Homo sapiens: one gene and its partners. The protein of the gene in region 4 purifies or fractionates together with the protein of the main gene of each other region. This does not show direct contact. Each region holds a gene or a part of one and is shown on either strand. Other genes may lie near its edges. The genes, in order: ZNG1C, BLTP2, NFXL1, DHDH, EIF2AK4, SBF1 and ARHGEF4.

Region 1 (3,735 bases), on a different chromosome or scaffold from region 4:
TGTTTTTTTGGAATTAGCAACTCCATTTCCTACATTCTGCACAGGTACCAATGGATTTAGTATTTACACAAACTACTACCTTGTATTTTAAAAAACTCACTCAGAAACCCTGATGAAAGGGTCCTCATTATTTAATTCATTCTTTCGTGGATTCTCAGGAATAAGAATATATGTAACACATACAATGTACTCACTACACAGGGCCAGGTACTTTTGCCTGAGTCACCTCATTGTATCTTTTGACTTACTCTTCACAACAATCCTGGGGAGTGAAGATAACTATTTCATTTTATAAATTGGGGAAAATAAGGGTCAAAAAAATAAGCTACCCAGAGCCAGGAATAAAACTCAAAACCAAAGTAAATTTGTTCTCTTAAAAAAAAAATACAAAAGAAAGGCTTGGCTTATCTTTAACTGAATAAGCATGTGCCAAGAGGAGAAGAGTTCTTAGCGATGAGAATGATAGGATAATGCCCTCTTTGGCTTTAGTAAGGGTGACATCATCATGTATTGAATATTAACTTTAGGATTTATTTTTCTTCTTTATCTTGATAAATCTCTCACTGTCTACCCTAAAGAAACAGAAGCTTAACATTTCCTCTAACAGGTCACCTAATTAAAACCCAAACCTCCCTTTGCCAATATAACCCCAAATTTCAAACTCAGAGATGAAAATACACAAGGGCTAAGCATAACATTATAAAAACATACACCCCACCTTGGAAAATAGAGGCTCAAAAGCCAAGCTCAAAATGAATTTAAAAAGGTAGAAAATAATATACTAAAGCACATCTTTGCATAACTTCCTAGAACTGCGTATCTGGCCTAGCAATTTTACTCACCATTACATAATCATACAGGCTTACAGCAGAAAATACAAAAAGACCAAAAACTATTTTATAATCCAAACTCAAGAGAATCGCTAAAGTATTAAAGACCAATTTAGGCAGAAACATATGAGACATTTCTTTCTTTCCATAGGTTACTGGGGAACAGGTGGTGTTGGTTAACTTCTTTAGTGGTGATTTGTGAGATTTTGGTACACCCATCACCTGAGCAGTATACACTGCACCCAATTTTTGTCTTTTATTCCTCATCCCCTTCCCACCCTTTCTCCCTGAGTCCCCAAAGTTTATTGTGTCATTCTTATGCCTTTGCATCCTCATAGCTTAGCTCCCACTTATGAGTGAGAACATAGCGATGTTTGGTTTTCCATTCCTGAGTTCTTTCACTTAGAATAATAGTCTCCAATCTTATCCAGGTCACTGTGAATGCCATTAATTCACTCCTTTTTATGGCTGAGGAGTATTCCATTGTATGTATATATATCACAGTTACTTTATCCACGCATTGATTGATGGGCATTTGGGTTGGTTCCACGTTTTTGCAATTGCGAATTGTGCTGCTATAAACATGCGTGTGCACGTATCTTTTTTGTATAATGACTTCTTTTCCTCTGGGTGGATATCTAGTAGTGGGATTGCTGGACCAAATGGTAGTTCTACTTTTAGTTCTTTAAGGAATCTCCACACTGTTTTCCATAGTGGTTGTACTAGTTTACATTCCCACCAGCAGTGTAGAAGTGTTCCGTGTTCACCACATCCATGCCAACATCTACTATTTTTTTGATTTTTTTATTATGGCCATTCTTGCAGAAGTAAGGTGGTATCGCACTGTGGTTTTGATTTGCATTTCCCTGATCATTAGTGATGTTGAGCATTTTTCCATATGTTTATTGGCCATTTGTATATCTTCTTTTAAGAATTGTCTATTCATGTCCTTAGCCCACTTTTTGATGGGACTGCTTTTCTTGCTGATTTGTTGGAGTTCATTGTAGATTCTGGATATTTGTTCTTTTTCAGATGTATATATTATGAAAGATTTTCTCCTTCTCTGTGGGTTGTCTGTTTACTCTGCTGACTTTTCCTTTTGCTCTGCAAAAGTTCTTTAGTTTAATTAAGTCCCAGCTATTTATCTTTGTTTTTATTGCATTTGCTTTTGGGTTCATGAAATCCTTGCCTAAGCCAATGTCTAGAATGATTTTTCCAATGGTATCTTTTAGAATTTTTATAGTTTCAGGTCTTAGATTTAAGTCTTTAATTTATCTTGGGTTGATTTTTGTATACAGTGAGAGAGGAGGATCCAGTTTCATTCTCCTACATGTGGCTAGCCAATTATCCCAGCACCATTTGTTGAAAAGGGTATCCTTTTTCCACTTTACGTTTTTGTTTGCTTTGTTGAAGATCAGTTGGCTGTAAGTATTTGGGTTTATTTCTGGGTTCTCTATTCTGTTCCATTGGTCCATGTGCCTATTTTTATAACCGTACCATGCTGTTTTGGTGACTATGGCCTTATAGTATAAGTTTGAAATCAGGTAATGTGATGCCTTCAGATTTGTTCTTTTTGCTTAGTCTTGCTTTGGCTACGCACATGTGTATGTTAAACCATCCCTGCATCCCTGGTATGAAACCCCTTGATCATGGTGGATTATCTTTTTGATATGTTGTTGGAATCAGTTAGCTAGAATTTTCTTAAGGATTTTAGCATCTATGTTCAAGGATATTGGTCTGTAGTTTTCTTCTTTGGTTATGTCCTTTCCTGGTTTTGGTATTAGGGTGATACTGGCTTCATAGAATGATTTAGGGAGGATTCCTTCTTTCTCTCTCTTGTGGAATAGTGTCTTTAAGACTGGTACCAATTCTTCTTTGAATATCTGGTGGAATTCTGTTGTGAATCCGTCTAGTCCTGGACATTTTTTTGTTGGTAATTTTTTAATTACCATTTCAATCTCCCTGCTTGTTACTGGTCTGTTCAGGGTAATTCTTCCTGATTTAAGCTAGGAGGGTTGTATCTTTCCAGGAATTTATCCATCTATTTTAGGTTTTCTAGTTTATGCATGTAAAGGTGTTCATGGTAGCCTTGAATATCTTTTGTATTTCTGTGGTGTCAGTTGTAATATCTCCCGTTTCATTTCTTATTGAGCTTATTTGGATTTTCTCTCTTTTCTTGGCTAATCTTGCTAACGGTCTATCAATTTTATTTATCTTTTCAAAGAACCAGCTTTTTGTTTCATTTATCTTTTGGATTTTTTTGTTGTTTTGTTTCAATTTCATTTAATTCCGCTCTGATCTTCTTTCTTCTGCTGGGTTTGTTCTTGTTTCTCTAGTTCTTTGAGATGTGACCTTAGATTGTCTGTGCTCTTTCCAACTTTTTGATGTAGGCATTTAGGGCTATGAACTTTCCTCTTAGCACCACCTTTGCTGTATCCCAGAGGTTGATAGGTTGTGTCACTATTGTCATTCAGTTTGAGGAATTTTTACATTTCCATCTTGATTTCATCTTTGACCCAAAGATCATCCAGGAGCAGGTTATTCCATGTATCTGCATGGTTTTGAAGGTTCCTTTTGGAGTTGATTTCCAGTTTTATTCCACTGTGGTCTGAGAAAGTGCTTGATATAATTTTAATTTTCTTAAAATTTATTGAGGCTCATTTTGTTGGCTATCATATGGTCTATCTTACAGAAAGTTCATGTGCTGTTGAACAGAACGTATATTCTGTGGTTGTTGGATGGAATATTCTGTATATATCTTTTAACTCCATTTGTTCCAAGGTATAGTTTAAATCCACTGTTTCTTTGTTGACTTTCTGTCTTGATGACCTGTCCAGTGCTGTCAGTGGAGTATTAAAATCCCTCACTATTATTGTGTTGCTGTCTGTCTAATTTTTTAGGTCTA
Region 2 (3,959 bases), on a different chromosome or scaffold from region 4:
ATCCTAGGTTCTTTGACCTTAGGGGGTTCCCTCAAGTCAGTACCCAGTGTTCCAGATCACCACATTTTGACCTAAAACTTCCAAACTTTCTTACATACACCTTAGAGGCTTATCATCCCCACAGGAGGACACCTGCCTAGTGGAGCTTTCACTGGCCCTGGACCTGTGTCTAAAGGTGGGCATTAGCAGTCGGCATCTCACTGCTATCACTGTGGATGTGTGGACACTCCATGCTGAACTGCATGAGGGCCTCTTCCAGAGCCAACTGCTGTGCCAGGGCCCAAGCCTAGCATCTAAGCCTGTTCCCTGTTCAGGTAAAGCCCCAGTGATTGAGCTTCTTGGCTGCCTTGTTCTCAGGGTTTGTTTTGGAAGTAGAAAAAATAGTGGTCTCACTGCTTATTTAGATGTGATTCACTAGTCACCATGGACTTTGACCCTAAGGATAGTTAGAGGAAATAGGGCATTTGCTTGTGCTGAGTGGCAGAACCAGCATTGAGTGGGCACCTATCATGAGTTAGACCTGTACTATGGGTTTTTTTTTTTTCCTTTTTTTTTAAAAAAAAAGATGGAGTCTTGCTCTGTCACCCAGGCTGGAGTGCAATGGCGTGATCTCGGCTCACTGCAACCTTTAACCTTCTGGGTTCAAGTGATTCTCCTGCCTCAGCCTCCTGAGTAGCTGGGATTACAGTCATCCGCCACCATGCCTGGCTAATTTTTGTATTTTTAGTAGAGACGGGATTTCGCCGTGTTAGCCAGGATGGTCTCGATCTCCTGACCTCGTGATCCGCCAGCCTTGGCCTCCCAAAGTGCTGGGATTACAGGCGTGAGCCACCATGCCTGGCCTTGTACTATGTGTTTTATATACAGTTGACCACTGAACAACACAGGTTTGAGCTGTGCGGATCCACTTATGTGGATTTTTTTCAATAAATACAGTTGGCTCTCCATATCTGTGTGTTCCGCATCCACAAGCAAGTGTGGATGGAAAATGCCAATATTTGCAGGATATGAAACTCACCAATATGGAGGGCTGACTTTTTGTATACATGAGTTCCCACAGGGACAACTGCTGGACTTGAGTATGTGCGGACTTTGGTATCTGCAGGGGGTCCTGGAACCAAAGCTCCAAGGATACCAAAGGATGACTGTATATTCTCTAACTAAATCCTCAGCATTTCACAAATAAGGAAACTGAAGCCTAGGAAGGTTAGCTAGGTAACTTGACTGAAGTCATACAGGCAGTCAGTAGTAAAAATGATGTTTAAATTATTTGGCCCTAAGGTCCACATTCTTTTCATTTACCAACCTGCTCCTTGTACTCTTTAGGTTTTTAGAGACTGGAGAAAGAAGTACTGCAGGTGCCTGGATCTCTGGGGCATTCGCCTTATGGTCCATCCAGCTTAGGCATTTGCTTAGCCTACTTTATGTGGGAGGATTTGACCATAGAGGCCAGGGCATTTCGGGAGAACTGGGAGTGTTAAGAATTGATGGTTCTTACGTTATTCATTCATATTTTCAGAGGTGACAGAAAACTTAGTTGAGCCAACTCTGCCTGGCCTATTCCTTCTCCAGCAGCTGCCAGACCAGGTCAAGGTTAAGATGGAGAACACAAGCGTGGTATTGTCCATGAATAGTCAAAAGAGGTGAGGTCTCTCCTGACACAGAAGATGGGAGAGTGATAGTGGGAGCTGTATGTTGGTATCTCTGTAACCAGCCTAGTATTTGCTGAGCTTGTCTACGGGGAGAAAGGAAGTAGAAATGGTTACATCCATGTAGTGTGGGAAAAATTAAAAAAATTATTATTATTTTTGAGACGGAGTCTTGCTCTGTTGCCCAGGCTGGAGTTCAGTGGTGCGATCTTGGCTCACCACAACCTCTGCCTCCCAGGTTCAAGCGATTCTCCTGCCTCAGCCTCCCGAATAGCTGGGATTATAGGCACGTGCCACCACGCCCGGCTAATTTTTTGTATTTTAGTAGAGGCAGGGTTTCACTGTGTTGGCCAGGATGGTCTCGATCTCCTGACCTCGTGATCCCCCTGCCTCGGCCTCCCAAAGGGCTGGGATTACAAGAGTGAGCCACTGCGCCTGGCCAAAAAATAATTACTTTTAAAAAATAAAAGTAAAAGAAGTAGGAATGGCATTCCACATCTTCCTGAGCTGGAATCTGTCTCGGTCCAGGCACCTGACTTGGACTCTGAAGCTGCTGCAGTTCCTGTACCACCGTGATGAGGATCAGCTGCCCCTTCGAAGCTTCACAGCAAACTCTGATATGGCACAGATGAGCACTGAACTGCTGCTGGAAGGTTCATGGGTCGGGGTACTGGTACTGAGCGAGAATGGGAGGACTAGATACTCTCTTTGCTCATGCCCCATATGGTCTCCTTAATCTAATCTCAGTGTAACTGGGGAGTGGAAGGAGGGAACATACTGAGAGAAAATAGCCCCAGCTCACAAGTTTTGATGACAGTCTGTTGATCCCTTTGCCGGCTTCTGACCCTCTCCCAGTTTTACCTCTTGCCCTTCCAGTGCTCTCCTCTGATCTGTCCTCTGGCCTCTTACAGATGGGTTGTTGTTGTCCCAGAGTCGCCAACGCATTGTCTGCCTCAACTCCCTCAAGGCTAGTGTGCAGGTGTGATGATTGTGGTACCAAGAATTGTTCCTTTCTCTATTCTCCCGCTACATTATTTCGTTTTGAGTTTGTGAAATAAAACCCAAACCCACAGTTCTGGTCTTCTTATTTCAGGTGACCACCATTGACCTCTCAGCCTCCCTAGTTCTGAACACTTGCATCATTCACTACCGGCACCAGGAATTCTCTCACTGGCTGCACCTGCTAGCACTGGAAACCCAAGGGTCTAGTTCACCTGTTCTAAAGCAAAGGAAAAAAAGGTCAGTCTGATCTTTTTCAGCCACCTTCTTGTCAGTTGGATTCTCTGGGATTCTTTTGGTCCAAATTGGCATCCTGTGTTAAATATGTATTTGGTTGTTTGACCTCCTCAAATCCGAGTCTCAACAGCAATCCTGTTTTATATATCTTTCCCATTAGACTAGACTCCTTGATAGCAGAATGCTGTCCTCTTTGTTTTTATGTCCTCGGTGCTCAGTGTAGTGTTTTATACAAAATAAATGTTTGTTGAACTGAACTTAAATGATAAGGAATGTCTTTGTCTTGCCTGCCTTTGATTGTAAGGTGGCAGTCATGTCTTTGTGTAGTGCTTCTATTGTGCTGCACAGAGAACTTAAGGTTATGGTTTAGAAGTGATGCTTCTTGGTTATTTTAGGTTCAAGCGTATAGTATTGCTGGTGTTCATTGTATTTGGCCTATGAAAATGATAATTTTATATGAGTCAACCTAATATCCTTTTGGGGTTCCTGCAGATTACCATTAAGAGTAGCAATAAACTGATGAGTTCAGCCTTTTATCTTCTAGGTGTGTCTCGTCCTAAGAATCACAATAAAACTCTGAATTCTCACTCTGATTGTGAGAGCTTCAGAAACTGTTCCATGATAGGAAGCTGCAGTTCTTTTCTTACCAAACAATGATGTCTTGTTCCTATGCAGAACCTTCCCCCAAATCCTGGCTCCCATCATCTTTAGCACCTCCATCTCCAATGTCAACATTTCCATTCAACTTGGAGATACACCACCTTTTGCCTTGGGATTCAATTCTATCTCTCTGGGTAAGGCTCTCAGATGGAATAGGAACAAGAATCTGTCCGTTAGTGGAGCTAGGCCCAATTGATGGCCACAGTGGCTCCATGCAATCCCTCTTTCTCACCTTTGTTCAGATTACCAGCACCTCAGGCCACAAAGCATCCATCAGCGGGGCGTCCTAACTGTGGACCACCTCTGCTGGCGTGTGGGCAGTGACTCCCACATTCAGCGGGCGCCACACCCACCCAATATGCATGTTTGGGGTGAGGCACTTGTTCTGGACTCCTTCACACTACAGGTAGGTGA
Region 3 (3,959 bases), on a different chromosome or scaffold from region 4:
TGCAGTGAGCCGACATTGAACCACTGCACTCTAGCCTGGGTGACGGAGACTCCGTCTCAAAGAAAAAAAAACAAAAAAAAACAGACTAAGGAACTCAATGGTAATTAGGTACTTATGACCTAATTACTCAGGTAATTATGACAACATTTTCGTGCCTATGAATTATAATATCAATGTCTCTTCTGTTTCTCTCAAGGAAAAATTTTAGGCCACTAATAATTCTAACTTAGAGATATTAGCAACAACTTGGTTCCTCATGATTATAACTTAAGTCCTCAGTAAAAGAATAGTCTCAAATAACTGAATACCTACATGAAAAACCTCTCTGCTAACTACACAGCCCACCTCCATTAAATCTACAGACTAAAATTACCCTATTTGTGCATATATCTCCTAACAACACTTTGCCTCCCAACTTGACTGTGTGACCAATACACAAAAATATACATGCTATTTCAACTGGGAGGAATGTTGTGGAAATGAAAGCTTTTAGAATTAAAAAACAAAAACAATCCTCTCTTTAAAAGACCAATACACCAGAAATACCAATGTTTAATTTGGCACCTCAGTTGTAGACAACAGCCCCTTTTCTAACTTTATGTTGCTTCTCAGCATTCTGTGCTTTTTCCCCTATACTCCATAACCTCTGCTGGAAGTATAAAAAATTCCAGGATTCCGTATTACTGTAGGTTCAGCTCCTTAGAGCTCAGTCCCAGTCATTCACTGGCCCATCCAGGAAACTACTTCCTCTCATTTCCAAGGCTTCCTTTAAATATTCCCCAAGTTTGCCTTATCTAAAACCTGGCTTTCTTCTGTCTTCAGGGAGCTTACAATCCAGTATGGGAATCATCGGGAAAAGTAACAAATGATGTTCCTTGGATTTGTTTTTGTAATTGCATGCACTCGCTATGGAAAGCTAAGAAGGGCATCAAACTCCAACTGGGGGTAAAGACTCAAAAAAAGATATCTATAGTAGGTTTATATGCAAGTATGACAAACATGTTTGAAAAGAATGAAGGTTAAGACAGACACACTAGTTGATAGGCTAGGCCTGAAATAATAATGAACTGAACTAAGAAAAAAGGGAGATTGACTTCAGATACCCTTTAAGCTATGTCAAAAGTTTTTTGTTTTTTTTTTTTAATTGAAATTCTAATACTTACATAGGAATAGGAACTTGACATGGAGGACACGGTAATGCAGTCTGAATAAATGCTGGCTCAGAAGGCTGTTCCCAAGGGCCTGTAGGCTGGTGCTACAAATAAAATACATAAGAATTTTAAGTCAGAGGGATTAAATCATATGGCCATTTTAAGAATCTAAGAAAATAGTTCCATGTATCCTCTGCTCAAGCAGGTTGAAATTTTTTCAAATAATCAATAAATTGTGCTTACTGAAATATTTCATTTTATCTGTATTAAATGAAATTGTTCCTCTCCACAGACATTTGATATTAATAACTGAGACAGAATCCAGTTTATAAATGGTAGAACAAAGGCAGTGTAGCCTCCTTTACTTCCAATAAGGAAATGAGAAAAACAATTGGAAACTCCAACATCTAGCAATTGAATATAATCTCCATCATTTTACTCACTGTTGTTCCTCAGCACCTAAAAAAAAGCTTGATATTTAGTAAGGGCTCAATAAATGTTCATGAGGCTGGGCTGGACGTGGTGCCTCACACCTGTAATCCCAGCACTTTGGGAGGCGGAGGCGGGCAGATCACTTGAGGTCAGGAGTTCGAGACCAGCCTGATCAACAAGCTGAAACCCCATCTCTACTAAAACTACAAAAATTAGCTGGGCATGGTAGCAGGCACCTATAATCCCAGCTACTCAGGAGGCTAAGGCACGAGAGTCACTGAACCCGGGAGGTGGAGGTTGCAGTGACCCAGATCACACCACTGCACTCCAGCCTGGGCAACAGAGTGAGACTCCGTCTCAAAAAAAAAAAAAATTAAATAACTAAAAATAAATAAATATTAAATAAAATATTAAAAAGTGAATAAATCTTTAAAATAAGATTATAGGAGATATCTATAACCCTAAACCACAATATATGAAGGAGGACTGCCAAATTCACCTGTATCATGATCATAATGTAACTATCACACTGTATTTGCAAACAATGGTTTCACTCCTTTCCTACACTGTGAGTTGCTTAAAACAAAATCAAGTCTTGATTACCTTGTACCCTGCTCCAAGCACAGTGCTTCCCAATAAGTGCTTAATCATTGCTCATTGAAAAACTAAGTAAAAGCAAGAAAGTACAACCCACAGCAATGCACTATTTCTCTAATAGTATTATTCCCTTACCCTGCCAGTCTGCTTTATTAATGCTTGATCATGACACGGAGCAGGACACAAGTGACCACATTTCTCCAAAACTTTTTGGCAAGGTTGATGACATGGTGGACAAGAACCAAAGTGACAGCGATGTTTTTCTTGACTTGTATGATGACAAGTTGGTGGTCGACTAAATCATAAAGTACAATTTTCAAAAATTACTTTTAGTCATTGAATAATTACATCTAAAGGACAATTATCTATTTACATATCTTCTGATTCCATATAGAATGAGTATACTGTGAATATTAATATTTTAAAACACTAAAGCAAAATTAAATTATTAAAAGCCAATATGAATTTAAATTTGTACAACATCAGATGGAAGCTTGTGCAAAGCTTCAAACTCACCTGCATTGCTCCTTGCACTTGGGTGGTCTTGTGGTACGTTCTCGGCCACAGGGCACTGTCACCTTTGTATTGCCACAATTACACTTCACATCTACGGTTTCTGGGCAGGGATAGCAACTGCCTGAAAAAAAAGTCTGACAATTAAAAAGTTTCCTTAACTACCCAAATGCCTATTAATGGTAAAATACATAAATTTAGTATATTCACACAATGGGATACTCTACAACAAGAATGAAGAAACTACAACAACATGAATGAATCTTACCACAAAACATTGAGCCAGACACAAGGAGTACATAGTGCATGATTCCATTTATATAAAGTAAACAAGAAAAAATGTACTGTTCAAAATCAGAGTGATAGCTATGAAGGATGCAAGGAAGGTGTTGAAAATTTTGGTCATGTTCTGTTTAATGATGTAAGTTTTGGTTACCTGGCTATGTTCAGTTTGTAAAAATTCAACAAGCTGTATACTTTTTATTTGTAATACTTTTCTCTTTTTTTTTTTGTAACAGGGTCTCAACCTGTTGCTCAAGCTGAGTGCTGTTGCATGATCACAGCTCAGTGCAGCCTCAACTTTCTGGGCTCAAGCAATCCTCCCACGTCAGCCTTCCAAGTAGCTGGGACTACAGACACACACCACCATGCCCAGCTAATTTTTGATTATTTATAGAGATGGAGGGGTCTCACTATGTCATCCAGGCTGGTCTCAAACTCCTGGACTCAAGCAATCTTCCCACCTCAGCTTCCCAAATGCTGGGTGTACAGGCGTGAGCCACTGCACCCAGCCTCTGATTTATAACACTTTTTTCTCTGTACACTGGTACCTCATAAAGTTTTAGACATTTCTCTAAAATGTGCTAAAACTTCTGTTCTAAATAACAAATTTAACACATTACTCATTCAAAACTAAAACAAGCAAAAATGGATTTAAGTCTTTGGAAAATTTAACATTAACAATAATATCGTTGGCCTACTTTCATACATCTATCCAAGTACACAATTTTTAGATGAATTCCCAATAACTTCTTTCTCATGACCTGATATTGGTTAGTAGCAAGCACAGTCAATTTTCCATTAATTGTGCTTTGTGAAAGACTAAGTACTAAGCCACCATTTTAGGATATAATCCCAAATATTTCTCTTCTAAACATAAAAAAAAATGTTATTTTGGTTTCAGCTTTTTACGCTCTTTTGTTATGGGTTGGCAAAAATATAAAAAAACAAAATCAAAGAAATCTTTAAAGCAGGCTATAAAGTTCG
Region 4 (4,627 bases):
CACTGTGTTGCCCAGGCTGGAGTGCAGTGGCGCAATCTTGGCTGACTGCAAGCTCCGCCTCCCGGGTTCACGCCATTCTCCTGCCTCAGCCTCCCAAGTAGCTGGGACTACAGGCGCCCGCCACCACGCCCAGCTAATTTTTTGTATTTTTAGAAGAGATGGGGTTTCACCATGTTAGCCAGGACGGTCTCGATCTCCTGACCCCGTGCTCCGCCCGCCTCGGCCTCCCAAAGTGCTGGGATTACAGGCATGAGCCACCGCGCCCGGCCGGCATCTTTTTCTTAAAGACTGACAAAAGATCCAAGCAATTTCAGTAAGCCTTGCCGTGTTTGCTAAGGGCCAAAAGCAATGGCTTTCACGGTAATAGATGCTGCCAAGGAGATTCAGATACATCCTGGCAAATGCACTGACCCCGTCCGCGCACTGGCAACCATATTTAATGGCAAGCACTTTTACGCTGGATATTGGAAGGGCTCCTCTGCCCTCACCTCCATAAGGAAGAGGGCTCGGGATCGGGCCTCCGCGACCATCTCGCGAACTTCCGCCGCGTTCACGCCCGTGGGCTTCTCGCACAGAACGGCCTTGCCCGCCGCCAAGCACAGCATCACCGCCGCCTTGTGCTGGGGGTGCTGGGTGCCAATGTAGGCCACCTCTAGGGTGGGAGTAGGTCAAGAGGTCAGCAGCCCCGCCCACCCAGACAGCCGAGCTCCGCCCACAACTTCGAGGCCCCGCCCTAGCACCCAGGGACCAGGTGGTCGGTCACACCCCTGTCTCCCTTAGGGAGCTGTCCTTAGGAAGGGGCTGTTACCTCTCGCCATTCTCGCTCTCTTTTTTAAAATTTTTAATTAATTAATTAATTTTTTTTTTGGAGGCGGAGTCTCACTCTTCGCCCAGGCTGGAGTGCAGTGGCGCGATCTCGGCTCACTGCAAGCTCCACCTCCCAGGTTCACGCCATTCTCCTGCCTCAGCCTCCCGAGTAGCTGGGACTACAGGCGCCCGCCACCATGCCCGGCTAATTTTTTGTATTTTTAGTGGAGATGCGGTTTCACCGTATTAGCCAGGATGGTCTCCATCTCCGGACCTCATGATCTGCCCGCCTTGGCCTCCCAAAGTGCTAGGATTACAGGCGTCAGCCACCGCGCCCGGCCTATTTATTTATTTCTAAGACCAAGTCTCACTCTGTCGCCCAGGCTGGAGTGCAGTGGCGCGATCTTGGCTCACTTCAACCTCTGCTTCCCGGATTCAAGTGATTCTCCTGCCTCAGCCTCCCCAGTAGCTGGGATTACAGGTGCGTGCCACCATACCTGGCTAATTTATTTTTATTGTTATTTTTTGTAGAGATTGGGTCTTGCTACGTTGCCGAGGCTGGTCTCGAACGCTAAGTGTAGTTTAACACCTACTAGACAGCCAGTCCCAGACCAAGCCCGTTTTATAGTTCTCCTCCCAGCCAAAGGTCTTTATGGAACCCAAAGGGATTGGACCATCCTGAGGAGCCTTGCATCTCCCAGGGGGCAGCCAGGGGGCACCGCTCCAGGGGCGGCGGCCAGCACCCCCATCGCCCTCGCCACTCACCCACGCTCGGGTCCTTGGCCAGCTCCTCATAGGAGCCGTAGGCCTTGGGGATGTCGTGTTTCTGTGCAAACTCCTTCGCACGGCTCAGATCGCGGGCCGCCACCGCCACCACCTGGAGGGGCACAAGAATCGGATTTGAGGGGCTGAGGCAGGCGTGGAAACTGGGTGGAAGGGAGGCAAAGGAGGAGGCTCTGGCCAGGGGAAGGGGAGACGTGGTCCTGGGGGAAGAGATGACGGGGGCTGGACATTTGGGCCCTGGGAAAGAGAGATCTGGGGGAAAGCCGTTATTAAATCCCCCAATATTGAAATTATCTTCATAGTAGCTTACATCAAGGCCTTTCCAAACCTCAAGACACTCAGGTTTGTGTGGGGAAAAGAAAGAGAGATCAGATTGTTACTGTGTCTATGTAGAAAAGGAATCTGTATCATGAATAAGTTCAAGGAAAGGTGCTGTGACCGGATGTGCACGTAGGCTAGATTTATGTTTCACTTTACACAAACATCTCAGTGTAGCAAAGAGTAACAGAGCAGTATCACTGCCAGCATATCTCGCCTCCAGCCACAGGTAGGTTTTCTCCTATCTCAGAATAGAAGGAATGGGAATGGTCCGCTTTACACTGAGACAGTCCATTCCCAGGGAGAGCAGGAGACAGAAGCCTTCCTCTTATCTCAACTGCAGAGAGGCCTCCCTCTTTCACTACTCCTCCTCAGCACAGACCCTTTACTGGTGTCGGGCTAGGGGATGTAAGGTCTTCCTTTCCCACGAGGCCATATCTCAGGCTTTCTCAGTGGGGGGAAACCCTGGACAATACCCAGGCTTTCTTGGGCAGAGGTCCCTGCGGCTTTCCGCAGTGCAATGTGCCCCTGGTTAATAGAGAATGGAGAATGGCGATGACTTTTACCAAGCATACTGCCTGCAAACATATTGTTAACAAGGCACATCCTGCAAAGCCCTAAATCCATTAAACTTTGATTCAATACAGGACATGTTTCTGTGAGCACACGGTTGGGGCTAAAGTTACAGGTTAATAGCATCTCAAAGCAGAAACAATTTTTCTTAGTACAGTTCAAAATGGAGTTTCTTATGTCTTCATTTTCTACGTAGACACAGTAACAATCTGATCTTTCTTTTCCCCACAGGTTTGCAGAACAGAGATGGAGAAGGAGGTAGCAAGGAAACAGACGTTTCACTGCAATGACGACCCACTCACTAGTCCTGAACCCTAAACTCCCTCCTCCTTTAGACTCTGGAGTCCCGCCCCCCGCCTCCTCTTCCCCAGAATCCGGAGGGCGGGCAGACCTGGTGCTCAGAGCGAGGCAGCGTCTGCAGCACGGCTGTGAAGTCGCTGGAGATGAGGCCGACAGACACGATGCCCCAGCGCAGCGCCATGGTTGCGATGCGGAGCCCTCGGCACCTTCGGTCCCTCCAGGCGCGAATTAAGTACCTGACGCCCCGCCCACCCCGGGGGCGGGTCCCCATCCTCCGCCCGTATTGCGCCTACGCCGATTCTCGTTGGCTCCAGTCGGCAGAGCGGTCATTTAGTTCTAGCTTCCCCGCTGGGCGAATGCACCGTTTAGCTCCGCCTTACAGAGGGAACCACACCTTGACGTCGCTTCTACAGATCTCTTACCTATGACTTTAGGCTCGTCGGATACGCGGGGTAAGGACAGCGTGGGGAGGAGAGGTTTGCTTTCTTGCCAACACCAATCCTTGAGAGTTAGATTTAATGTCTTGCCCTCTGGACTTTGTGGCAAAACTTTGCCCTGACTTTTTTGCTCTCAAAGCCACGCATCATTAGGGGTTGTTCACAGAGAGAGAGAGGATTGTAACAGCAAACTTAATAATTATTACTAATATGTATAGAGCACCTGTAGACCAGCTCCTCAGCTCTGCGCTTTACCTTCTTCGTTCCTAATTTCTCCCCGCAGACCTGGGAAGTAGCTTCTATTGTCCCCAGTTCACAAAGGGGGAAACAGACTCCAAGATCCCTGGTCATTTTTTGGAGGTCTCACAGTCAGGAGGTAAAGACCTGTGAATTGGCTGCTTCCAGAAGCTATAGTTTTAGAAACCAGGCTGCTTTGCTTGTTAGGAGCCCCAGAGCCTGGCCGACTGGTTTCAAAACCCTCCTTGCCCCTTCTTGGCTGTATTGCTTTTGGACAAGAGGTCGCCCTCTCTGGTCCTCACTTTTCTATTCTGGAAAGCAGAGATCATGATAACATCTACCTACATAGGGTTGTGAGGAGGATTCATTGAGCTCTATGGTCTATTATGTAAAATATACTGTATTATTATAATTATTATTGATATAGGGTCTCGCTCTGTCGCCCAGGAAGGAGTGCAGTGGCACAATCATAGCTCACTGCAGCCTCAAATTCCTTAGCTCAAGGAATTAGCTCCTGCCTTAGCCACCCTAGTACCTGGGACTACAGTAGCTGGGACCCAAAGTAGCTACTGGCTACTACACCTGGCTAATTATTTTGTTTTATTTATTAATTATTTTAGAGATAGGGTCTCACTCTGTTACCTAGCTGGACTGCAGTGGCGTGATAATAGCTCACAGCAGCCTTGTACTCCTGGGCTCAAGCTATCTTCCCGCCTCAGCCTCCTGAGTAGCTGGGAGTATAGGCATGTGCCCCACTTACCGCTATTTGTTTGTTTGTTTGTTTGAGACGGAGTCTCACTCTATCCCCAGGCTGGAGTGCAGTGGTGTGATCTCAGCTCACTGCAACCTCCGCCTCCCTGGTTCAAGTGATTCTCCTGCCTCAGCCTCCTGAGTAGCTGGGACCACAGGCGCCCTCCACCATGCCCAGCTAATTTTTTTTATTTTTAGTGGAGACAGGGTTTCACCATGTTGGCCAGGATGGTCTCGATCTCCTGACCTTGCGATTTGCCTGCCTTGGCCTCCCAAAGTGCTGGGATTACAAGCATGAGCCACTGCACCCAGCCTGCTAATTTTTGTTGCTGTTGTTGTTTGTTTTTTGTTTTTGAGACGAAGTCTCGCTCTGTCATCCAGGCTGGGGTGATCATGCAGTGGCATAATCTTGGCTCACTGCA
Region 5 (3,959 bases), on a different chromosome or scaffold from region 4:
CAGGAGTTTGAGACCAGCTTGGCCAACATGGTGAAACCCCGTCTCTACTGAAAATAGAAAAATTAGCAGGGCATGGTGGCCGGCGCTTATAATACTAGCTATTCGGGAGGCTGAGGCAGGAGAATCGCTTGAACATGGGAGGCAGAGGTTGTGGTGAGCTGATGTTGCACCACTGCACTCCAGCCTGGGTGACAGAGTGAGACTCTGTCTCAAAAAAAAAAAAGAAGATTTGCTCTTAATCCACTCAGAAAGGGGTGTCTAGCAATATGATCTCAGGGGAAATGAGGTTTTTATAACTTATCTTGACCATTTGTTTAATAATCCTTGTCAATTATCTCTTCATAATTTTGAAATGATTCCTTATAAAGGCGTAGCGCAGTGAAACAGTGCACACAGAGACAGAGAGATGATAGTATGAAGCTAAATTGGGAAAAAGGGAGAGGTGGCAGCAATGAGGACATGGTGTGAGAACTGAAACTTGGTAGGTGATGAAGGCAGTAGGAAGACGGGAAAAATAGGTTTCCACCCAAATCCTGAGAAACAGCTAGAAGAGCTTACAAAAATAAAGTACCTGATTTTTGTATTTCAGTCTGATTACATTTCTAAAATTGACTGCTCTCTTTTAACACTCACTCTTTTGCATATGTCCACAGCATACTCTAACATTCATATTCTATAAATTTAACTCAGTGTTCTACTGTAGTTATTTTATTTTGAGACAAAGTCTTGCTCTGTTGCCCAGGCTGTAGTGTAGTGCCATGATCTTGGCTCACTGCAATCTCTGCCTCCCCAGTTCAAGCAATTCTCCTGTCTCAGCCTCCCGAGTGGCTGGGATTACAGGCGTTTGCCACCACGCTTGGCTAATTTTTGTATTTTTAGTAGAGACAGGGTTTCACCATGTTGGCCAGGGTGGTCTCGAACTCCTGACCTCAAGTGATCCGCCCTCCTCGGCCTCCCAAAGTGCTGGGATTACAGGCATAAGCCACCGCACCTGGCCTATATTTATTTGCTTTTATTATTCTCTATATAATGCATATGCTTCTAAGTTATAAACTCTTTTGAGGACTGGGGCCATGTTAATGTTTTCTACATTTTACACAGCCCTTAGCACACCAGTAGGCATATAGCAAATGCCGAAACCATGTATGGAATGAGAAGCCTGCCTTAAGTCTTGTCATCGGCCTCTTCTACTTTGCTATTTAGAGCACAAACAAACCTCAACTACCTTTAGAGCCAGATTAGATAGTTTTCATTTAGATGCAGTCACTCTGACAACAGCTGCCTTGAGGTGCCCACAGTGCACAATGGCCCCTCTCTGAAGGACAGATGGGAATCCTGGAGCCAGAAGCCACCCAGTTAGGCAAGTTGGAAGAAAAATTTTTTTCTTGGAAAAAATATTTCCAAGAAATTCCATGTTTATCTTATTTTCCTTTCCTGTTGTTGTTTTTCTCTTCTGTAACTCATATTAGAAAGCCAAAGAAACCCTGACCCAGTGTACCTGAGTTTCATAGCGCCTCCTAGTGCTGGCTGACAGCTTCTCCGGGGCTAGCACACTCACAATGGGAACCACTGTTGCTCCATGGATTTCAAACAAACCTGAGACCAAGAGAGTTTCAGAATTTATGGCCTTATCTGGTCCCACTTTCTACAACATACTACAGAGAGATGGCAGAGTTTATTAGTAGACATCCTGTCGTGATTCTAAGGGCTAGATCACGACTGGGCTGTGTTTTCTATCCCTACAACCATCTGCACCGGATAGGTGAGGAGCCCAGAACCCCAACACCCAGCAGTTTTGATGCTTCTCTCCTCAGGCAGGGGTTGGGGGGTGGTGGAAGGGGCAGGGAGGCAACAGGAGTCATCAAAACCTCAGGGGCCTAAGAAAATCAAGCTGAATATCACCAAACCTGCATACTTCTTTAAATTCCTGCAAGAATTGGAAATCTGATGGCAACACAAAGTTAGTGCTAACAGAAGAGAATGGGAAAGACTCAATTCTGTTAAAAGCCAAATATGTCTTCTCATGGCCTTAATTGGAACACTTCTTTAAAAAAGAAGTAAGGTTGCTAGAGGTGATGAAAGCAAAGGCATAACTATCACCACTGTGCCCTCTTGGCTTTCACGAAAACAAAATGTGTATAGTGTCCTTCTTCAAGGGATTTCAAAATACTTCCTTCAATCCTCTGTATGAGGAAAATCTCCAGGAAAATTATACACATTTCACTTGTACAATAAATTGAGTAAAAGGAAGATTAAATCACTTGTAAAAATAAGAGATAGAGTAGAAGAGTCAGCTAAATTCCAGTTGTTTTATCCTTTTCTAGGATGTGGATTTCAAAGCATAGGGATGCATCCCATGTGGTACAATTTATTGCGTATATGTTATTTTAAAAATAGATTTCCAGTGTCACAAGCAGTTAGCTACAGTAATAAGTGCTTAGAGCAAACATATAAGCATCATTATGTTCAGATTATAATTAGTAATTATACCTGAAGCATTAGAAAATGACCCCTTCAGATTTTGCACTGCAAGATTATCGGAAGCTTCTCTAAAAACAAGCAAACAAAAACAATTAAAGAACAGTCAATAAGGCACAAGCAACACATAACTTACAGTGAACTACATGTATAGTGAGCCACTTTTCCATTAAATATAAAAACATCTTCTTGGTTATTGGTGGAAAAACAAAAACAAAAAATTTGCATTTAGTTATGCTTTGGTCAAGAGCAAGTAAAAATTATAAAGGATGTCTTTTTAAGTTAACAAATGCCTAAGGAAAACATTCTGATTTATTCAGCTGGGCGTGAAATCCTGGATCCACACAATAAGCTGATTTCAATGAAATATAATGGGTGTTCTTTCCGCCCCCCTCATAATACAAGGAAACATGAATAACAGCAGCCCCACCTTCATTATGGCAGTAGCCTTGGCAACCACCCACAGGAGAACATTTGGTAAATAAAGATATTCTTTAAAAAGCCGTGAATGGATGTTCTTTCAAATGCTGTGAATTAATTTATAGCCTTTGAGAGAGACAACAGCACTCTATCTTGGGAAAACAGGGAAATAATCATTTGCTGGAGGAAAAACTTTGAACCTTTCCCTGCTAAAACTAAATCCCATGTAGCCTTTTAAGTGTCTTGGTAATGTTCCCCCATACTCACTACTTGGCTATTTCTTGGTTTCTCTTCTAAACCTCTGTCTTTGATTTAGATCTATAATTCCAATACTGGTGATTTCCAGAACATTATGTTCCCTCAGAAACACCTAATGGTGAATTTATTAAGGCTAGGTGCAAATAAGAAGGGGTGGGGGCATGAGAAGAACAGAGCAAGGTTTGTTTTCTGTAAGCCAGGATTTCCCAATCTTGGTACTACTGAAATTTTAGGCCAGAAAATTCTCTGTTGGGGGGTAGTAGTCCTGTACCCTTTAGGATGTTTTCACAGTATCCCTGGCCTCTCCTAGATACCAGTAAAACTCCCCAGTTGTGACAACCAAAAATGTCTCCATACATTGCCAGATGTGCCCTGGGAAGCAAAATCATTGTTGGTTGAGAATTGCTGATGTAAGCCAGAAAAATTACCGTGTGGTATTTTCTGATAATGAGCATACATATAAGAATTTCTTGAGGCGGGAGAGTTGCTTGAGTCCAGGAGTTGGAGACCAGCCTGGGCAACATAGGGAGATCCTGTCTCTACAAATAATTTAAAAAAATTAGCTGGACAAGGTGGTACATGACTACGGTCCCAGCTACTCAGGAGGCCAAGAAGGAAGGATCACCTGAGCCTGGGAGGTTAAGGCTATAGTGAGTCATGTATACACCACTGCACTTCAGCCTCGGCAAAAGTGAGACTCTATCTCAAAAAAAAAAAAAGGAGTTGCAAATATATAGAAAAGCTTAACAAAGTAATTTAAGATCCCTTGTAATCCCACTAACCAAAACTACAATTAAAAATTT
Region 6 (3,959 bases), on a different chromosome or scaffold from region 4:
CCTGCTACCCTCGTACGTTCTTGTAGAGCTGCTCTGCCAGTTCCTGGACGTGACGCAGGACACGCTGGGGGTGGTTCTCATCCGCCCGCATCCTTGCCACCTCGTGGGCCACCAGCTAGCGGGGTAAGCAGGAGGTTAGGTAAGCCATGGTCAGGCGGAGCCAGGGCAGGGGGCTGGGAGGGCAGGGTGGAGGTGCACCTCATCGAACAGGTCCGTAGGGCGGTATGGGACCCCACGCTCTGACACAAAGCCAGCAAAGGCCATGCCCTCCAGCACCTTCATCAGGAAATCGTCCTCTACCAGCCCACGCTGGCCCAGGAAGGCTGCCTGGATGACAGAAGGAGGTCGGTCCCTCAGGGGTCTCCACCATGCGCTTATCTCCTACCCCACGCCCAGCCACCAGGCACCCCACCTTATGGAAGCGGATGACAGGCTCCGGGTGGATGCGCACGACGTGCAGGCACCAGCGATAGCCCTGCAGCAGCTGAGCGAACAGCCGCAGGAAGACCGCGCGCAGCTCCTTGTCCTGGGAGAAGAGCTGAGTGCAGGTGAGAGCCAGTCCTGCCAATCCCCACCCCAGGCTGCCCAGGAGCTTCTCCACACCCCAACCCACCCCAAGCTGCCCCGCTCCCATCCTTCTGCCCCTCCCACCATTCTGCACTCAGGGCCACCAGCTCCTCTGAAACTGTCTGGACAAGGCACTCCTGGCTCAGCACCCTCAAGGGCTCCTGTGATCAGACGCCAAGTTCCAGCCCCTTGCTGGGCCCCTGCCGCCTCGCCTGCACCACTCACGACCACCACTCCTAACTGCTGGCAGCTGCTTTGCTCCCAGGCTCCTGCTTCTGCTACTGGAGCCGGGGCCAGCCTGGGGGTGGGGCCCTGTGTGTCAGTGGCAGCAGACCTGAGTGGGGGCAGCCTAAGTGCCTGGGGTCCCCATGCAGGAGCAGCAACGACCCCCACCTGCATCTTCAGGGAGGAGGTGGATGTCGTGGGCGGAGGGAAGGCGAGGTCAGCCAACTCCAGCTCCGGGTCCAGGACCTGCCAGCACAGAATGGAGCAGGCAGCTGCACGCTGGCCCCGGCTCTAGGCTCCCCGTGCTGCCAGGTAGCCACATCCCAAAGGCCCCCAAGGCTCCCGCTTGCCCATGGTGCCCCTCACCATGCTCAGCACACTGTGCGTCTGACTCTGCAGTGGCTCTGGCAAGGGTGGAATGTGCACACACTCAGGAATGGTGACCGTCCCTCCATCCAGATCAGCAACAATCACATCGAGCTGCGGACCAAGGGAGCCGGCAGTCAGGGACCTGCAGGCCTGGGCCGTGAGGTGGACACAAAGCACAGCCCTTACCAGCTCCTGGGTCTCTGCCTGGAAGGCCGCGTTGACCCCAATGATGAAGGGCGTGGGTGTGCTGAGGACCTCCAGCAGCTGAGCCGGCAGGATGGGCACATAGGTGAAGCTGTGCAGGCCCCAGAGGATGCAGTGAGCCAGGGGACGCGGCTGGGCAAAGGGGCCAGGAGAAGGGGCTGGGAGGGCCGGGCAGGGGTCACCTGTATCTGAGAGGAAACAGCAGTGCCAGGAGGCCCCTACAGGCATCGGCGAGCCGCTGGTAGCTCCGGGACAGGAAGAGAACCTTGTGCTCCGTGAGGGCGGCACAGAACAAAGACAGCACGTTGGTGATGCCTAAAGGAAGAAGAGAAGCTTGGAGAGGACCCTGGGCCCCCACCCAGGCAGAGTGAGAACCCACATCCCTAACTACCAGTCCCCGAGGGGAAGCCATGCGGGGGTGGGACAGACAGGCTCACCTAGCTGGCGGAAGAGCAGGGCCACGCTGCAGCGGCTGACGGGCAGCGAGTCGGCCAGTGGAGTCTGGATGACCTGCCGGTCACCAGCCCCCAAAGAGATCGTCCTCTGCAGCAAAAAAAGGATCGGGGCTCAGTAGTTTGGCCAGAGCCAGCCCAGAGTCAGCCCAGAGCTCTGTGTCCCCAGGCAGACCCTGGTGTACTGACAGACCCGAGGTGGGACTGGCTGGGATGGGCAACATGGCAAGAGGGAAACGCCATGCCCTGCCTCTGTTGTCCCAAGCAGCTGCAGAGAAAACTCAGGACAGGAGTGGCTGCTTTTGACTTGGGGGTAGGGATGGGGCCTAGGTGGGCGGAAGAAACAAAGAATCCATACCGCTCCTTCCTCAACAGAGTCCAGCTGCACAGGACAGACGGGCAGAAAGACACGGTTAGACACTCCAACACACCCAGGCACAGGGCAGGGAGCAGACAAACAAGCTGACATCAACATCCAGAGACAGGCACACACCATCAAAGGAGTGGACAGAGAGGCTGAACGACACAGGCCCAGAGCACAGGTGCGAGGGCCAGGTAAGCAGGCCAGGACTGTTGGGGGCAATGGTGGCACGAGGACGCAAGAGGGAGCATCCAAGGCCTCCAGCTGTGTGTGGCTCTGGCTGGGCTCCAAATACCTACCAGGGCCCCAGCAGGAGGGCCTGTGGCTGTGCAGATACCAGCTGCCTCCAAAACTCACCTGCGAGCCCCCAGCCAGGGGCACAGTGCACGTCAGCAGGTTCCCAATCACGTTCTCCAGGCACACATTCAGGCCCTCCACGTGGATGGCATAGATGAGGCCAAGGCTGTTCTGCAATGACCAGAGCGGGGAGTGGTGGGACAGCCGATGGAAGCACCCTCGTCGTGCCTCGCCGCCCCGGCTGCCGGCCTCACCCTGAACACCTCCGTGTGGTCGAGTCGCGACACCAGTACCAGCGTCTTCGGTGCAAACAGCTGGGCAGATGGGGCAGGTGCTGTGGGAGACAGGTGGGTCTGGCCTCCCTCATCCCCCTCTTCCTCCCTCTCTGTGGCATCCTCCACGCGCGTCGTTTCCTGCTGGGGGTCAGGGGGAGACGGGGGCAGGGGGAGTTGGCCACGGCCCAAGGATGCAGCTTCATTCATGCTGTACCCAGAGGCCCCAAGCTGACCTGTGAAGGCTCCGCTGGCTCCCAGAAGGTCAAGCAGGCGCAGTAGTGGCGCTCGGAGTTGATGTCGGTGAGGACAGCAACAAAGAAGGTCGGTGGATTCCTCTCGGGACACAGCTGCCACCCGCTGGGCTGGCAAAACTGCAGGGAAGGCTCAGCAGTCAGCTCCTCCCCCTACACCTGTGGCAGGAACCAGCCCACCCGCCCCAGCATCTGCACCACCAGGCCTGGAGGCTCCAACACACACAGGCAGCTCCTTGCTTGGAGACCCTGGGGACACGTGGCCTCCTGGGCCTCAGTCTCTCCGGGTGAAGGGAGTAACAGCCTCTGACCTCCCCACCTGGGGCAAGGACCAGGAGATGGGAGAACAGTCCCCACCATCATGAGTGAGTGACAACATGACACAGTGACATGAGCACCGCACAGGCCGCCGGCCAAGCCGGTCAAACCCCCCGACAGAGGCTCTGCTGTCTTGTCCCTAGCCCAGCGGGGGGCCGGGCACTGTGGAGGCCCCTCAGTCAGGGACAAGGGCAGGGCTGTGCCCACCTGCCCTCCCCACCTGCCAGCACCGTCTCAGCACGCCCCCAACTCACCAGCTCGATGCCCTGGGGGAATGGGTTGTCCTCCCAGTCCTTCTCTGGGAAGCGCTGCAGAATCTGGCCCTGGCCTTCCCCACTCCCTGAGGACAAGAACAGGGGGTCAGAGCACCCAACCCGCCCCCCACCCACCAGGAGGCTTGAGGATCCCAGGGTGGAAACATTCCCACCCACTGGGCCCTCATCTGGCACCAGATCAGCCACAGCTCCCTAAAAATAGCTCCGTATGGAGAGTCTGCTTGACAGCTGCAGACCCCAGGGCCACCTGAGGGTAGAGAAGCCCCTGCCGCTACACCCCATTCTCCGATCCCACCCCAGAGACCTCCTTCAGCCTGACCAGCCCAGCTTCACACAGCACAGCAGCCCTCCATCGAAGGTCAACA
Region 7 (4,749 bases), on a different chromosome or scaffold from region 4:
AAATACACCCTCGAAATCAAAAGTCATGCTTGGCCCACACACGATGCTGGGAGGGCCTCTGGATTTTTGAGACAACATATTTTCCTTTTGGGTGTGCTGCTCCTCTGACTCATTTGCTGGGTGACCCCCAAGGCGGCGCACCTGTGTGGGCCCCTGGCAGGTGCAGGCTCTCCGACTGGTCTGCCTGCACGGGGAGGGACTCTGCCACACGACTGTCATGCCCCATGGATCCCACGGTGCCCAACGTGCCCAAGCAGATCTGTGTGCTGTACAGAGTCTGTACCAAGTGCCACCAGAAGGCACACCTGGGGCCTTGGGGTCCTCCTCCTGGGCTTGGTGGAGACTAGCTGCATCTTGGCTAACAGAGTCTGACTGGGAGACCCAGACAATCTGAGGTTCCCAGAATGAAGTGGCCTTTTCTGGCCCAGTCCAGCACCCATCATCAGGGGTACCTCATAGGACCAATCCCTGGGGACACCAGGAGGCACCAGGCGGTGACTGAAGCACGTAGCTCCTCTGCCCACCCCACAACCTGTGTCCTCACGGGGTATTCCTTACGACCAGTGTCTGAGAGGAACAAGTATGAACTACGTTGTCGGTGGCTCGGCAAGACACACTCACACAGCCAGAAGTGGACTGCTGTGGCAGTCAGAGCCCCTCCCATGTGGACAGCAGAAAGGAGACCCTCTGAGGGGCACAGGTGATGCTTCCTGTGGTGTGCATGGGGAGGCCTCAGGTGTCTCAGGACCTACAGGGACCTGAGGCAGAAAGTATGGAAAGGCCTCTCTGAATAGATGGGGAACTGGAGGACCGTGTGTGTCAGGAATACTTTCACAAAGGCCAAATCCCAGGAGCCTCCCAGGCAGCAGCAGGCAAGGTGGCTGCCCAGAGATGTCCAGTGGTCTCTCCTCCAGCCACACTCCACCTGCTCCTGGAGCTTCTGGGGCCAGCTGGGTGACTCAGATTCTGCCCAGGCATCTTGGATTCTGTCCGGCCATCTTCCCCTCACCTGGGCAACTCCTTGCCACCCTTGCTGTGGGTGCAGCAGAACCAAGGTCCAGGGCTCACCACTTCATAAACACACTCACGTTTCTTTCCTTCCTTCCCTCCCTCCTTCCTTCCTTCCTTTCCTTCCTTCCTTCCTTCTTTTCTTTTTCTTTTTTTTGAGACGGAGTCTCGCTCTATCACCCATGCTGGAGTGCAGTGGTGCTATCTTGGCTCACTGCAACCTCTGTCTCCCGGGTTCAAGCAATTCTCCTGCCTCAGACTCCCAAGTAGCTGGGATTACAGGCGCCCACTACCGCGCCCGGCTGATTTTTGTATTTTTAGTAGAGACGGGGTTTTGACATGTTGGCCAGGCTGGTCTCGAACTCGTGACCTCAGGCGATCCGCCCCCCCCACTCGGCCTCCCAAAGTGCTGAGATTACAGGCATGAGCCACCGCGCCGGGCCACACTCACATTTTCTAATAAGACCTTCACACTAACCCTGAAAGGTGTGGAGGGCATGGAAACATCACCCACATTTTTCAAAACAAAGACCCAGGTGGTTATGTGATTGTCCCAAGATTGTACACCTCCTCAATGACAGAGTCGGCATTTGAAGGGGGTCTGAGCTCTTCCAAGCCATCTCCTACACTCACCAGCACAGGTTCCTGAAAGGCTGCCTTCCCGGCTGTCCGGCCCTCTCCACTCTTGATGCCAGCGATCACTTCGTTATCGCTGGGGGTGGGAGCTGATGCCAGGCCAGCGGATAGGCTGAGGGCAGGGCTCCTGCAGGTCTGCCCTGGGTCACCTGGCTTCCTGCCCCTTTCACTAGAGCTCTCAGGGCCACAGAACTCCGACCTCAACCTCCCGTCTTCAACTCCGGGAGAAGATGGCTGCACAGCCAAGTAGGGCGCCCTCCCGCCCTCCCGCCCCGACAGCCCCACACAGGTCTGCCTCCCCCTGGACCTGCAGCTGACAGCTGGTGGCTCTTCCCCGCCTCTCCTTTCATGCAGTTGCTCCCGGAGTAGGAGCCCATCGGAGCTCAGCACCACCCAGCGTCGCAACCGCCCTCCCGCTGGCTCACCTGGGGAGGTCGGGCTTGGCAACCTGTGGCCGGCCACCCCTGACAGTGCCCCGGAGCCCCCGGCCCATCTTGGGGTTCCTGTGGGGGCAGCGAGGTGGAGGCGTCCCAACTGAGTGGGTCCCGGATGGTGAGCGGGCCCGGAAATCGGGCCAGAGAGGGGGCACCCCGAGCAGGAGCCCAACAGCCCCGACCCCAGTTCCAGCCCCTTGCCGCTGCTGCGCCCTCGCGTACTCTCAGCCTGGGGAATAACAACAGCAACCACTTCTCCCGTACCCACCGGGCCGGCACCAGCCCTCCTTCCCAAAACAGCTGGTACTGCGCCAAGCGGCAGAGGCTCCGAGTGCCCTGCGCGCCCAGGCCGGTCCAGGCAGCGGCTCCGAGTGCCCCGCGCGCCCAGGACGGTCCAGGTGCGGGGAGGCCGGCTCAGGCGCTCGCCCTTGCCCTCTCAGGGGCTCGCCCCGGGCCGCCGTCCCTACCGCCCCCAACGGAGCCCCGTCCTTCCCCGCGCTCGAGACGGCCCCACTTTGCAGGACGCCGCCTCCGGTCTGCACGTCGGAAAGTTGGGAGCGGCGGGGAGCCACGAGGGTGTCCCCACCCACCGGGTGCCCAGGGGACGGCCCGGGGCGCAGCAGCCAGCGCGGGCTGTGCTCCTCCCCACCCGCGCAGGGCGCCGGGAGCCCGACCGCAAGTCCCGGACGCCGGCTCTCACCTTGAAGAAGCTCCGGAGGAAGTGCACGACGCTGAGCATGGTGGCCGCCGGGACGCCCGGAGCCCGGCCGCAGCACTACGAGCCGCGCCGCCGAGCCGGCTCCACCGACGCCACCCCGCGCCCCGCCCTAGGGTCCGCCCCCGCGCCCTCGCCCGGACGCTCCGCCCCCGCAAACCTGGCCACTGGAGGCACGTGAGGTCCAGGCTCCTGCCCTGCCCGCCCCTGGGCTTTGGTCACCCGCGGGACTGGGCACGCACAGGCACACAGCAGAGCCGTCCACAGACCCGGCCCAGGGGCCGCCGGGATCATCCCGCCCAGTCGAGCTCTTGGGCCCCCTTGAAGCCTAGGAGTGTTTTCTCAGAGAGAAAGCAGCACGCTTCTTGCGCATTTGCACATCTCCAACGCAGCGCTTCGGCCTGTCCTCCGCACTGGAGACTCAGGTGCCTCCGCCCTCCTGAGAGCAGGGGCGGCCTCTCTGCTGAGAGTTCTGATTGTCAAGCTCCCAGAACTTTCAGAGTTCAGTCCGCCCAGCGTTCTTGTTTACCAGTTGAGGAAACGGAGGCCCAGGGAGGCTGTGCAGCGCGCCGGCACTCACACACCTGGTGGGGACAAATGTGGACTAGGATATCTGGGACCGAAGTCTTGGCCTCCAGCTCCCTCTTGCCTCCCACTTACCTTTCCAGGTATGTCCTGCAGATAGGATGTAAGTGAATGGTCACACCCGTAACCATTAAGGAGCGCAGCTTTCTGCTAAGGGGCAAAGGGAAGTCCTCGCTGCTTTCTTTGCAGGGGTTTAAGGAGACAGGGCCTGCCAGGAAACACTCTAACCAGCCCTAGGACCGCACTATTTTAAATCAGAAGAAAAAAACTGAGTATAATAAAATAATAATGAATCTAGCCTGGAGTATATTCATCTTTATATGAATGCAGTTGTAAACTCTAATTTTAACTATTTTATTTTATGCAGGAAGAGGCCCACGAAAGCTAAGACCCCAAGGCCCATGTGCACCATACTGCAGCCCTGCTCTGTCCACCATTTCTGAGATCGGCGCCCCACAGAGGGAGAGCATCTGCCCAGACTGGCTTTTTGCACCCCTGCTCAAGCCTGCACCCTCGTCCAAGTCCTAGCCCCACTGAACGCTATGCCTGGTCAGCAGTGCGTGTCAGGGGTGCCTGGCAGAGTGTGCATTTTCCGTACACCCAACCTGTCTCTGCCTCTCCCCAGGCCCTCACAGCAACCAGGCCAGGCGAGAAGCTTGGGAGATAGATACTCAGAGGAGGCACTGTGGGGCCATCTGAAGATCCTGCGTCCCCTGTCACAGCCTTTATGTCACTCAGGGTCCATGACTGTGCTAGAAGCATGTCCCTGAGGCCCATGGTGGTGGGAGGAGGGTGTGGGATTCGGATCTGGGCACCTGGCTGTGCTGCACACCAGTTGTGTAATCATGATCATCTGCTCTAAACACGTATCTTTAACATTCGAGAGGAATGACCGCCTGGTGGGGTTGCCATGGAGAGTACGTGAGAAATTAAACCTCACAGGTGCTTAGCAAAAGTTAATTCGCTCTTCTCTGAAGGCTTAAAGTGCTAATCCCCTGGCGAGGGGGGAGGTCCAGTGAAAATACACAACCCCTGGCCACAGGTTCCATTGTTGTCTGGACTCCTCTGACCAGTGGACAGCCCTGGACCTGGGTTCTCAGACCTGAGTCAGAACCACGTGGAGGACACCATAGAGCTTAGGCTGCTGCCCCTCACCGCTGCCCCCCTCTCACAGGATCTGGGGTGGGGCCTGGGAATTTGCATTTTAACATGTTTCCAAGTGACCCTGAAGCTGCTGGCCCTGGGACCACACTTAGAGAACCCCTGGTTCAGGCTATGGGGCCTGGGCCAGGCTCGCCGTCTAGCAGAGGATCAGACCCCAGGTTGGAGCATAACCGTCATGATGGCTCCATTCATCAGGCACCTGCTGTG

What was found.
Region 1: the proteins of DHDH (region 4) and ZNG1C purify together in Homo sapiens (affinity purification with mass spectrometry; one large-scale study listed by BioGRID and IntAct). This does not show direct contact.
Region 2: the proteins of DHDH (region 4) and BLTP2 purify together in Homo sapiens (affinity purification with mass spectrometry; one large-scale study listed by BioGRID and IntAct). This does not show direct contact.
Region 3: the proteins of DHDH (region 4) and NFXL1 purify together in Homo sapiens (affinity purification with mass spectrometry; one large-scale study listed by BioGRID and IntAct). This does not show direct contact.
Region 5: the proteins of DHDH (region 4) and EIF2AK4 purify together in Homo sapiens (affinity purification with mass spectrometry; one large-scale study listed by BioGRID and IntAct). This does not show direct contact.
Region 6: the proteins of DHDH (region 4) and SBF1 purify together in Homo sapiens (affinity purification with mass spectrometry; one large-scale study listed by BioGRID and IntAct). This does not show direct contact.
Region 7: the proteins of DHDH (region 4) and ARHGEF4 purify together in Homo sapiens (affinity purification with mass spectrometry; one large-scale study listed by BioGRID and IntAct). This does not show direct contact.

What each region holds. Positions count from the first base shown.
Region 1 is NC_000009.12:68,293,696-68,297,430, reverse strand, and holds part of ZNG1C (zinc-regulated GTPase metalloprotein activator 1C), read right to left. Parts: intron 1-3,735.
Region 2 is NC_000017.11:28,638,244-28,642,202, reverse strand, and holds part of BLTP2 (bridge-like lipid transfer protein family member 2 isoform 1 precursor), read left to right. Parts: intron 1-124; coding exon 125-314; intron 315-1,519; coding exon 1,520-1,643; intron 1,644-2,177; coding exon 2,178-2,302; exon of another isoform or gene 2,303-2,306; coding exon of another isoform or gene 2,307-2,316; intron 2,317-2,560; coding exon 2,561-2,628; intron 2,629-2,742; coding exon 2,743-2,888; coding exon of another isoform or gene 2,889-2,898; exon of another isoform or gene 2,899-3,142; intron 3,143-3,560; coding exon 3,561-3,679; intron 3,680-3,787; coding exon 3,788-3,951; intron 3,952-3,959. UniProt on the Homo sapiens protein: Tube-forming lipid transport protein which binds to phosphatidylinositols and affects phosphatidylinositol-4,5-bisphosphate (PtdIns-4,5-P2) distribution.
Region 3 is NC_000004.12:47,883,183-47,887,141, forward strand, and holds part of NFXL1 (NF-X1-type zinc finger protein NFXL1), read right to left. Parts: intron 2,818-3,959; coding exon 2,697-2,817; intron 2,476-2,696; coding exon 2,316-2,475; intron 1,256-2,315; coding exon 1,164-1,255; intron 1-1,163.
Region 4 is NC_000019.10:48,932,057-48,936,683, reverse strand, and holds the start of DHDH (trans-1,2-dihydrobenzene-1,2-diol dehydrogenase), read right to left. Parts: upstream 2,986-4,627; 5' UTR 2,963-2,985; coding exon 2,873-2,962; intron 1,685-2,872; coding exon 1,573-1,684; intron 653-1,572; coding exon 489-652; intron 1-488.
Region 5 is NC_000015.10:40,027,996-40,031,954, reverse strand, and holds part of EIF2AK4 (eIF-2-alpha kinase GCN2), read right to left. Parts: intron 2,550-3,959; coding exon 2,491-2,549; intron 1,597-2,490; coding exon 1,499-1,596; intron 1-1,498. UniProt on the Homo sapiens protein: Metabolic-stress sensing protein kinase that phosphorylates the alpha subunit of eukaryotic translation initiation factor 2 (EIF2S1/eIF-2-alpha) in response to low amino acid availability.
Region 6 is NC_000022.11:50,464,803-50,468,761, forward strand, and holds part of SBF1 (myotubularin-related protein 5), read right to left. Parts: intron 3,660-3,959; coding exon 3,574-3,659; intron 3,122-3,573; coding exon 2,984-3,121; intron 2,892-2,983; coding exon of another isoform or gene 2,889-2,891; coding exon 2,730-2,888; intron 2,647-2,729; coding exon 2,536-2,646; intron 1,909-2,535; coding exon 1,803-1,908; intron 1,681-1,802; coding exon 1,548-1,680; intron 1,457-1,547; coding exon 1,348-1,456; intron 1,273-1,347; coding exon 1,159-1,272; intron 1,039-1,158; coding exon 961-1,038; intron 527-960; coding exon 413-526; intron 328-412; coding exon 199-327; intron 116-198; coding exon 17-115; intron 1-16. UniProt on the Homo sapiens protein: Acts as an adapter for the phosphatase MTMR2 to regulate MTMR2 catalytic activity and subcellular location. Promotes the exchange of GDP to GTP, converting inactive GDP-bound Rab proteins into their active GTP-bound form.
Region 7 is NC_000002.12:130,835,022-130,839,770, reverse strand, and holds the start of ARHGEF4 (rho guanine nucleotide exchange factor 4), read right to left. Parts: upstream 2,858-4,749; 5' UTR 2,818-2,857; coding exon 2,779-2,817; exon of another isoform or gene 2,777-2,778; intron 1-2,776. UniProt on the Homo sapiens protein: Acts as a guanine nucleotide exchange factor (GEF) for RHOA, RAC1 and CDC42 GTPases. Binding of APC may activate RAC1 GEF activity. The APC-ARHGEF4 complex seems to be involved in cell migration as well as in E-cadherin-mediated cell-cell adhesion.